2 linked regions of the Homo sapiens genome follow. The protein of the gene in region 1 interacts with the protein of each later gene in a biochemical or structural test. Each region holds a gene or a part of one and is shown on either strand. Other genes may lie near its edges. The genes, in order: SLC25A17 and MARCHF1.

Region 1 (5,537 bases):
GGCCAACATGGTGAAACCACATCTCTGCTAAAAATACAAAAATTAGCCGGGCGTGGTGGTACATGTCTATAATCCCAACTACTCGGGAGGCTGAGGCAGGAGAATCACTTGAACCTGGGAGGTGGAGGTTGCAGTGAGCCAAAATTGTGCCATTGCACTCCAGCCTGGGTGACAGAGTGAGAAGATGTCTCAAAAAAAAAAAAAAAGGAAAAATTTTTCTTATTTTCACTTATTTGATTGAAATATTTCACTCAGTTGAAAAATACAGGATTAATGAAATCTATGGTACTAATTGGATAAATTTATTAATGTATGCTATAAGATACTACTCCAACATAATATCCTCCCCAGGTAAAAATGAAGATTTTAAAAAACAGCAACAGTACTTTTGTTTTTTTTCCCTCTTTCCTCAGTTTGGGCGTCATAGACTAAACCCAGAAAACAGAACATTGGGAAGTCTTCGGAATATTCTCTATCTTCTTCACCAACGAGTAAGGTGAGCTTTGTAGATGCCTCACATTCCGTGCTCTCCTTCAGCAGCCATCTCTGCCAGGGAGGGGTTGCATTTCCCTCTCTCACACTACTGCCTTGGTGGTGGCAACCTCCAAAACCTTTCCCTTGCTTGCTGTGCTTAGACATTTCCCATTTTAGGAGCCTAGTACAGTATGACAGCATTTTGGGAAATTATGGAAAAGTTCAGGTTCTTATTCTTTGTTAGTTACAAATATTCAGAACTCCTTCAGAAAGAGAACCCTTCTATACTTCAGTCACCCTGAGTGTGCTTTCATCAGTGGCATATCCTATGATGCCTCTTAGCAATATAACATCTGCCTATAGAATAGGAGTACTGGAGAAGGGAGGGGGCAGTGGAAAAAGTGATAATAGTGATGATGATGATGATAATGATGATGGTGGTGTTGGTAAGAGTAGCTAACATTTTCAGTGGTTTGCCATGTGGCAGACACTGACCTAGAGGCTACACATAGGTAATCTCAATCCTTTTTTTTTTTTTTTTTTTTTTTGGAGACAGAGTCTCGCTCTGTTGCCCGGGCTGGAGTGCAGTGGCGCTATCTCCGCTCACGGCAAGCTCCGCCTCCTGGGTTCACACCATTCTCCTGCCTCAGCCTCCCAAGTAGCTGGGACTACAGGCGCCTGCCACCACGCCTGGCTCATTTTTTGTATTTTTTAGTAGAGATGGGGTTTCACTGTGTTTGCCAGGATGGTCTTGATCTCCTGACCTCGTGATCTGCCCTTCTCAGCCTCCCAAAGTGCTGGGATTACAGGTGTGAGCCACCGCGCCCAGCCTTGTCAATCCTAACAGTAGCTCTGTGAGTTAAGAACTATTGTCATTTCCTGTTTCATTTAAAGAAACTGACACTTAGTGAAGTCAGATAAGTCAGGGACCTCCTTTGAAGCAAAAGCTCTTATAACTTTATTACTGTTCCTAGATACAAGATACTTTGAAAATAAATTTATTATTAAAATAAAATATGCAGCCAGGCAAAGTGGCTCATGCCTGTAATCCCAACACTTTGGAAGGCTGAGACAGGAGGATAGCTTGAGGCCAGGAGTTCAAGACCAGCCTGGGCAAAGTAGTGAGACCCTGTCTCTACAAAAAATATTTACAAAATTAGCCAAGCATGTGGCACAAACCTGTAATCACAGCTACACACGAGGCTGAAGCAGGAGATTCACTTGAGCCCGGCAGATTGAGGCTGTACTGAGCTATGATGGCACCACTGTACTCCAGCCTGGGCTAAAGAGGCAAGACCTTGTATAAAAAAAATAAAAAAAAAAAAAGAACATTCAAGGGACTAAAAGACAAAATTAGGCTGGGCGTGGTGGCTCACACCTATAATCCCAGCACTTTAGGAGGCCAAGGCAGGCAGATCGCTTTAGCTCAGGAGTTTGATACTGGCCTGGGCAACATAGTGAGACCCCGTCTCTACACAAATAAAAAATTAGCTAGGCATCCTGGTGCCTGCCTGTAGTCCCAGCTACCCAGGAGGCTGAGGTGGAAGGATTGCTTGAACCCAGGAGGTCGAGGCTGCAGTGAGCTGTGATTGTGCCACTGCACTCTAGCCTGAGCAACAGAGTGAGACCTTCTATCAAAAAATAAAATAAAATAAAAGACAAAGAATATGTATAAAGTAAAAAATAAATACTCACTATATCAAGTATTGGGAGGGATGTTGGAGCAACCAGAACTTACTTTCTTATGCTGCTGGTGGGAATATAGAATGGTACAGCTGCTTTGGAAGGCAATTTGGCATTTTCTTTAAAAATTTTTATATACCACACCTATTATAGGACCCAGCCATCCACTTCAGGGTATTTACCCAAGAGAAATGAAGGCATATGTCTACACAAAAGCTTGTATACAAATGTTAATAATGGCTTTGTTTTTTTTTTTTTAATTTTTTAATTTTTGATTTTTGTGGGTACATAGTAGGTATATATTTTTGAGGTATGTGAGATGTTTTGATACAGGCATGCAAAGCATAATAATCACATCATGGAAAATGGGGTATCTATCCTCTCAAACATTTATTCTTTTTGTTACAAACAGTCCTATTATACTCTTTTAGTTATTTTTAAATGTACAATTAAATTATTATTGACTATAGTCACCTGTTGTGCTAGCAAATACTAGGTCTTATTCAAACTATCTATTTTTGTACCTATTAACCATCCCCACCTTCCCCCCGCCACTACTCTTCCCAGTAGTCTCTGGTAACCATCCTTCTACCTTTATCTCCATGAGTTCAATTGTTTTGATTTTTAGGTCCCTCAAATAAGTGAGAACATGCGATATTTGTCTTTCTGTGCCTGGTTTGTTTCACTTAGCAGAATGACCTCCAGTTCCATCCATGTTGTTACAAACAACAAACTCTCATTCTTTTTGATGGCTGAATAGTACTGCATTTTGTATAAGTACCACATTTTCTTTATCCATTTATCTGTTGATGGACATGTAGCTTGCTTCCAAATTTAAGACATTATTTGTAAGAACCAAAAACTAGGGCCTGGCACGGTGGCTCACACCTGTAATCCCAGCACTTTGGGAGGCTGAGGCGGGCAGATCACGAGGTCAGGGGATCGAGACCATCCTGGCTAACATGGTGAAACCCCATCTCCACTAAAAATACAAAAAAAAATTAGCCTGGTGTCGTGGCGGGTGCCTCTAGTCCCAGCTGCTAGGGAGGCTGAGGCAGGAGAATGGCATGAACTCGGGAGGCGGAGCTTGCAGTGAGCCGAGATCGCGCCACTGCACTCCAGCCTGGGCGACAGAGCGAGACTCCGTCTCAAAAAAAGGAAAGTACTTTGACAACAGAAGTCTGTGTTGAAATCTAAAACCTCTATTGCTTGTTCTTATCAAAGTAGCTATCTAGGTAGCATGTTCTCTGATGCAGGAGCTGACTTCTGTTTTTTCAAACCTCTTTCCCTTTAGACGTTTTGGAATAATGGGACTCTACAAAGGCCTTGAAGCCAAACTGCTGCAGACAGTCCTCACTGCTGCTCTCATGTTCCTTGTTTATGAGAAACTGACAGCTGCCACCTTCACAGTTATGGGGCTGAAGCGTGCACACCAACACTGAGACGCCTTCCCATGAAAAATTCCGAAGATGCTCAAGAGGGAGGTTTCCTCCTGAGTGAAGAGAAGTGATTCTCCCTTGACTCTGGCTCCTGCCACCACAAATGTTACCCTCATTGGCTTGAAAAGCATCCAAGGGTGCACAGGGAGTATGGCCAACTGGACCTGTTGTCACCTTAATTGTCATGCTGGCTGGTTGGATTTTGGGGTGGCAGTTGGACTAATGTGAAAAAAACATTGCTGAAAACCTAAAAATGAAAGTTTGTGAGTGTTTATTGGTTTTCTTAAGAGAAATGGACTATTTTGCTCTCATGTGTAATGTTTTCTATTTAAATCTTTCTTAAATATACCAGCTGTTCTCTTTCCCTGAACTCTCCCCCAGGTTCTAGGACAAATTTAATAACATGTAATTCTCCTCAAATACTTTTGTATGTCTCAGTGTTGGTGTTTTCCTCCCTAAAACTAACATTAGGGCTGTGCCACGGGCATGACTTTATTTTTGTTGGGCTTTTTTTTCCCTGCTTAAGGAGAGGTGTCTTTTTTGGATATGAGCTATTTATTTTGTGAAATGAAAATTGTTCACCCAAATGATTCTCTTATAAACTATTTGTAAATGTCACTTATTCATTAGTGTTTGACATAATTTTTAGAATATTTATTTTGAATCAATCCTTTCATTACGAAAGACTTGAAGTTTTGTGTCCATTCTTACAAGCCCTGGTCAGTCAAGTCCCAATAAATGGTCAGCACAAAAAAGATATTCTTGAAAATTGCTCTTTATTAAGGTATTACGTTGAGTTTGCAACCAGATGGGAAAAATCACAAAAATGAGAAGGGGAGCAGATATCTTGTTGAGGTCTGGATATTATCTCCCTTTATAAACTTGGTGTAGGCCGTATATTTTGAAAATAAACATCTGGTTGAGGTTATTTCATTTGGAAACCTTCCTTAGAGTCCTGTTGCTCAGTGTGGTCCATCAGACGGTAGTACTGCCACAAGCTGAGAGCTTGCTGGGCACGCAACCCAGAGTTTCTGAATCCTGTTCCGTATTTTAACATTCCCAGGTGATTCACAGCCACATTAAAGTTCAGGAGACCATAGGACCCCTGACCCATGAGAAGAAGTGATTGGTTTCGATTATAGACATCAAGATAAAGATTTTTCTCAAAGGAAAGAGATTAATGTATTAAAACAACCTCTGAAAAATCTAGGAGTCGTATGTCATCTTTTGCTTTCACCTCACAGCACGTTGTTAAGGTGGTAAGGCTTTTATTATGCGGCCAGGAGTGGATTTAGATATCTCGACCCACTCAGGAAGCAAATTCACTTGACATTAGCAGAGCGGTTCTTTGGATTTCTATGACTTCCTTTTTGTCCCTATGACAAAATGGCGGGTTTTTCATTTGTAAGTCCATGATTTAGTCAGAGAGAGTAATAATGAAATACTTCATTATTAAGGATTTAGTTCAATTTTGAGAGTGGAAATTTCCTTCTCTTATTTCCTCTCTTTAGTCCCTGTGGTAATTTCAAAGTATATGATTGTTAAAGATCATTGCATTGTTCTAGCAAACAAAAATTAGCAGGAGCTAATAATCTGGGAAGAAGACTGAACATTCATCCCCTATTTAAGTCAGAGAATTGAAGACAGAATTGTTTTTTCTATTTTTTAATTTTACTTTAAGGTTTTTGTGTGCCTGTGGCAGACCTTGAGTGGGAAGTACAAAATTATTTTGATTTCTGTATAGGAGAAAAATGATCATAAAGGTGTCATGTGTATTTTCATTATTGTTTTAATTATGCCGTTCCCTTTGGAACTTGAATTTTGAGCTCAGAATATTGTGAGTTGGTCTGTTAGGATAATTTCCAGTTCGAATTATATAGCTGTATTAGGTATTTATGATGTGAGAATGTATTTGATGCTTCTCTTTTTCTGATTTTATGA
Region 2 (3,122 bases), on another chromosome or scaffold:
CATAAGAACCAAAGCATGAGTATCACACTGCACAAATCTGGGTATCACATGGATGCACTTTGTAATTATCAGTGTGCTTGTTCTTCACAGATCATAGGAAAAAGGGAAAAAAAAAACAAACCTTTAAATGAGGAGAAAGATGGTATAAATATTAGTAGTGGCTGACACTGAGTCCAGATAGTCTTGATTCCTAGAAATAAACAAAAGGTAAACAATGTCAATTTTGTGTGTGTGTATGGCGTGTGTGTAGTCATGTATATATGCGGGGAAAATGTTAAGGTATTCAGTCAGGAAACAAAAGGTTTAAAACTCATCTTTCTTAAAACTTGTTATAAGCACAGGGAAAGCAAAGTTGAGGTAACTAAACTGAACCAAAAATTCTGTATAAATAAGGATATAAGTAATTAACGTTTTAAAAAACATGTGGACCTTAAACAAACTGTATATTAAATTCCTCTTAAATGCCCATTTTAAATATTTAAGATAAATACATTTATGAATAACAAATCTGTGGGTGATTTAACCATGGCACCATATCCAAGGGATTAACCTTAATGCAATTTTCCTGTTAATTGTCCTAAGCTTTTTACTAATCCATTTTCCCTGTGGGTTAGTAATGGCAACATGCTGCTTACAGATATTCCCGGGGAAAAACATCCAGACACCAGCAAACAAAGAAATGTTGATTTCTCTTTTGTTTGCTCTGAAAGTAAAATAATTATTTACTTTAATTAACATGGAAAATATTGTTTAAATTCTGTACGAACCTAAACAAGATACGTTGCAGGGCTGATTTCACAGTGGAGGATGATCGGCTAAAATAAAGCCTCATTTATTAAGGGCTACACTTTTAACACTAAGAAAACATTTCTAGAATAAAAAGCAAAGGTAAGCATTATTCTATTAATAGTAAAAGAGGACATGGGATTTTAAAACTATACCTAAATTCTTGCAATTAACTTTTATGGGCTTGGACATTGTTGAAATGAGAAAATAATATAATATAGCTTCCTGGCAGGTTAAAAGTCAACACTTGATTTTGCTATTCTTCTGACTTTTTGAAACCCTGAAGTTCTGAATTTCAAGCTTTTAAGAAGCTTTTCAGCAATGGTTGTTTGTTTATGGTTCAAACATCTGAAATAACTACCTGCATTTAAAATCTAATGTTGATTATTTTCTTTTTACATTCTGTGTGGCAATGGAACATTTGCCCTTTCAAACAATAAAACGATTTAGCTTTGTGGCAGTGCTTTTTTGTAGACTGACTGACTATACCCTTCAAAAAGAAAAACTGCTCTACGGAATGCAAATTTTGAGGCATGTTTACCTGCTCGTGGAAGAAATAAAATGGAATTGAAAAAAAAAGGACTAAAATTGAAGAATGAAATTACAGTTGTGTTAAAAACCTTGGCTCTTTATAATCATGAATCTTCAGTATTAAACCAGACATTGATGCTGTTAATTTTTTTAAAGAACTATCACTCTTATCGTACAGGAGTAAAGATTAAATTGTAAAAGAAAGAAATTCCAATTTTTTAAAAAGTAAAGCCCAAAAGGCAATTAAGCTTAAGTACAAAAACAAAATAAAAATGAACAAAATCTAAACTAAAGTGAGCCCAACAACCTGAGATACAGCAATGTGTAACCTGAAGGAAGATAGGTGTAGACTGAAGGAGTCTTTCAAAACACCCCAGCATTAAATCTCACTCTGCGCTGCTTCTACACGTGATTATAGTCCCAGACAGACGACCTCATGGTTTTTTATCTTGTTTTACAAAAGGTCCTTGGGTACTCTTTAAAACATCTATTCTTTGGCAGGAAAATTAGCTCATTAGAACAATGACACCATTAAGGGACATTATAAGGGTCCTGGGGCTGAGGTGGGAAGATTTTTCTATCTGCCCCATATAGTTTACCCTTCCTTGCCTTGAAAATGAATATTATAGAACAGAGTACAGCTCTTAAAAGTTATTAGTATCATTATTATTATAGTTGTTATATAATACTTTAATTAAGAAAGATGAAAACCTTTTTTCTTTCCTAAGTCAGCCCAATGGTGCTATTTTACATATCAACACAGTTGAAAGGAAGTACTGTTATTTTGGGCTGCAGTGTTTCCTCCACATCTAAAGAAAGCCCATTTTGAAACTGGATACTGCATTAAAACAAAGAAGGAAAAATTATTTTAACTGTGTGCAGTTTTTGAAATTAGGCATTTGTACTATTTTGGTTTTACATAATTCTCTTGCATTAACAATTTACTGTTTTGTGAATCATGTGTACTAAAGCAAATTAAGAAAAAGAAAATAATTATCTGTGAAAGACTTTGTATATTAAACAAGTGACGCAAACCTTAGTTGTGGTTTCCACAATTTTTGCCTAACAGACTGATATTTGTATTTGCAACATCCAAACACACATACATTTTTTAAGATTTTACAAGGGTCTGAACATATAATTATTTTAAAGCAAACCTACGTTGACTAACTCATGACATGGTACAAATAAATAAATACACAAACAGAGGGAAACCAATGAAAATAAACTATGTGGACTTTCAAACCTGCTTTAAAAAAAGAGTTCAAGAGAAATCACAATGTAATCTAAAGCGGGACTGTCTCAAGAATAAGTCTTGGATATAGAAAAATAAGCATATAACAGCATTTTTCTGTTCAGAGATAATAGTGGATTCAGATAATTGCATGGATAATAAACATTAAAAGCAAGATATTAGAATCTAAGAGGTTTGGTGATAGCAAAAAACAAAGCTGTTTCCAAATGTCCAACTTCTAAGGACCTACAGGGCTTTCTACCAGTCTGCTAATTATATGAGCCAACTCCTCTGCCCAAAATGGAAATCTGAACTTAACACCCTCCCTCACCACCAGAAATTATAGCAAACATTCCTAGATCATTAATCACTGTCATTATGTGTCCAGTGATCCTAAACTGGGTGCTGTGATAGAGATTAACCAAGAGTAGCAAGGGTGTGGGGGTAGAGATGCTTTAGATAGAGAGAACACTTTTAAGCTCAGACCTAAAGGAAGAGAGAACAATCAGTTATTGTTGGCCTTGCAAAAGCTCAGGGGAATGGCAACGCAGGAAGAGGGAATGGTAAGTAC

The links.
Region 2: the proteins of SLC25A17 (region 1) and MARCHF1 form a complex in vitro, tested with the Homo sapiens proteins (one study listed by BioGRID).

The regions. Positions count from the first base shown.
Region 1 is NC_000022.11:40,768,896-40,774,432, reverse strand, and holds the end of SLC25A17 (peroxisomal membrane protein PMP34), read left to right. Parts: intron 1-413; coding exon 414-496; intron 497-3,451; coding exon 3,452-3,599; 3' UTR 3,600-4,803; downstream 4,804-5,537.
Region 2 is NC_000004.12:163,523,952-163,527,073, reverse strand, and holds the end of MARCHF1 (E3 ubiquitin-protein ligase MARCHF1), read left to right. Parts: 3' UTR 1-2,356; downstream 2,357-3,122. UniProt on the Homo sapiens protein: E3 ubiquitin-protein ligase that mediates ubiquitination of TFRC, CD86, FAS and MHC class II proteins, such as HLA-DR alpha and beta, and promotes their subsequent endocytosis and sorting to lysosomes via multivesicular bodies.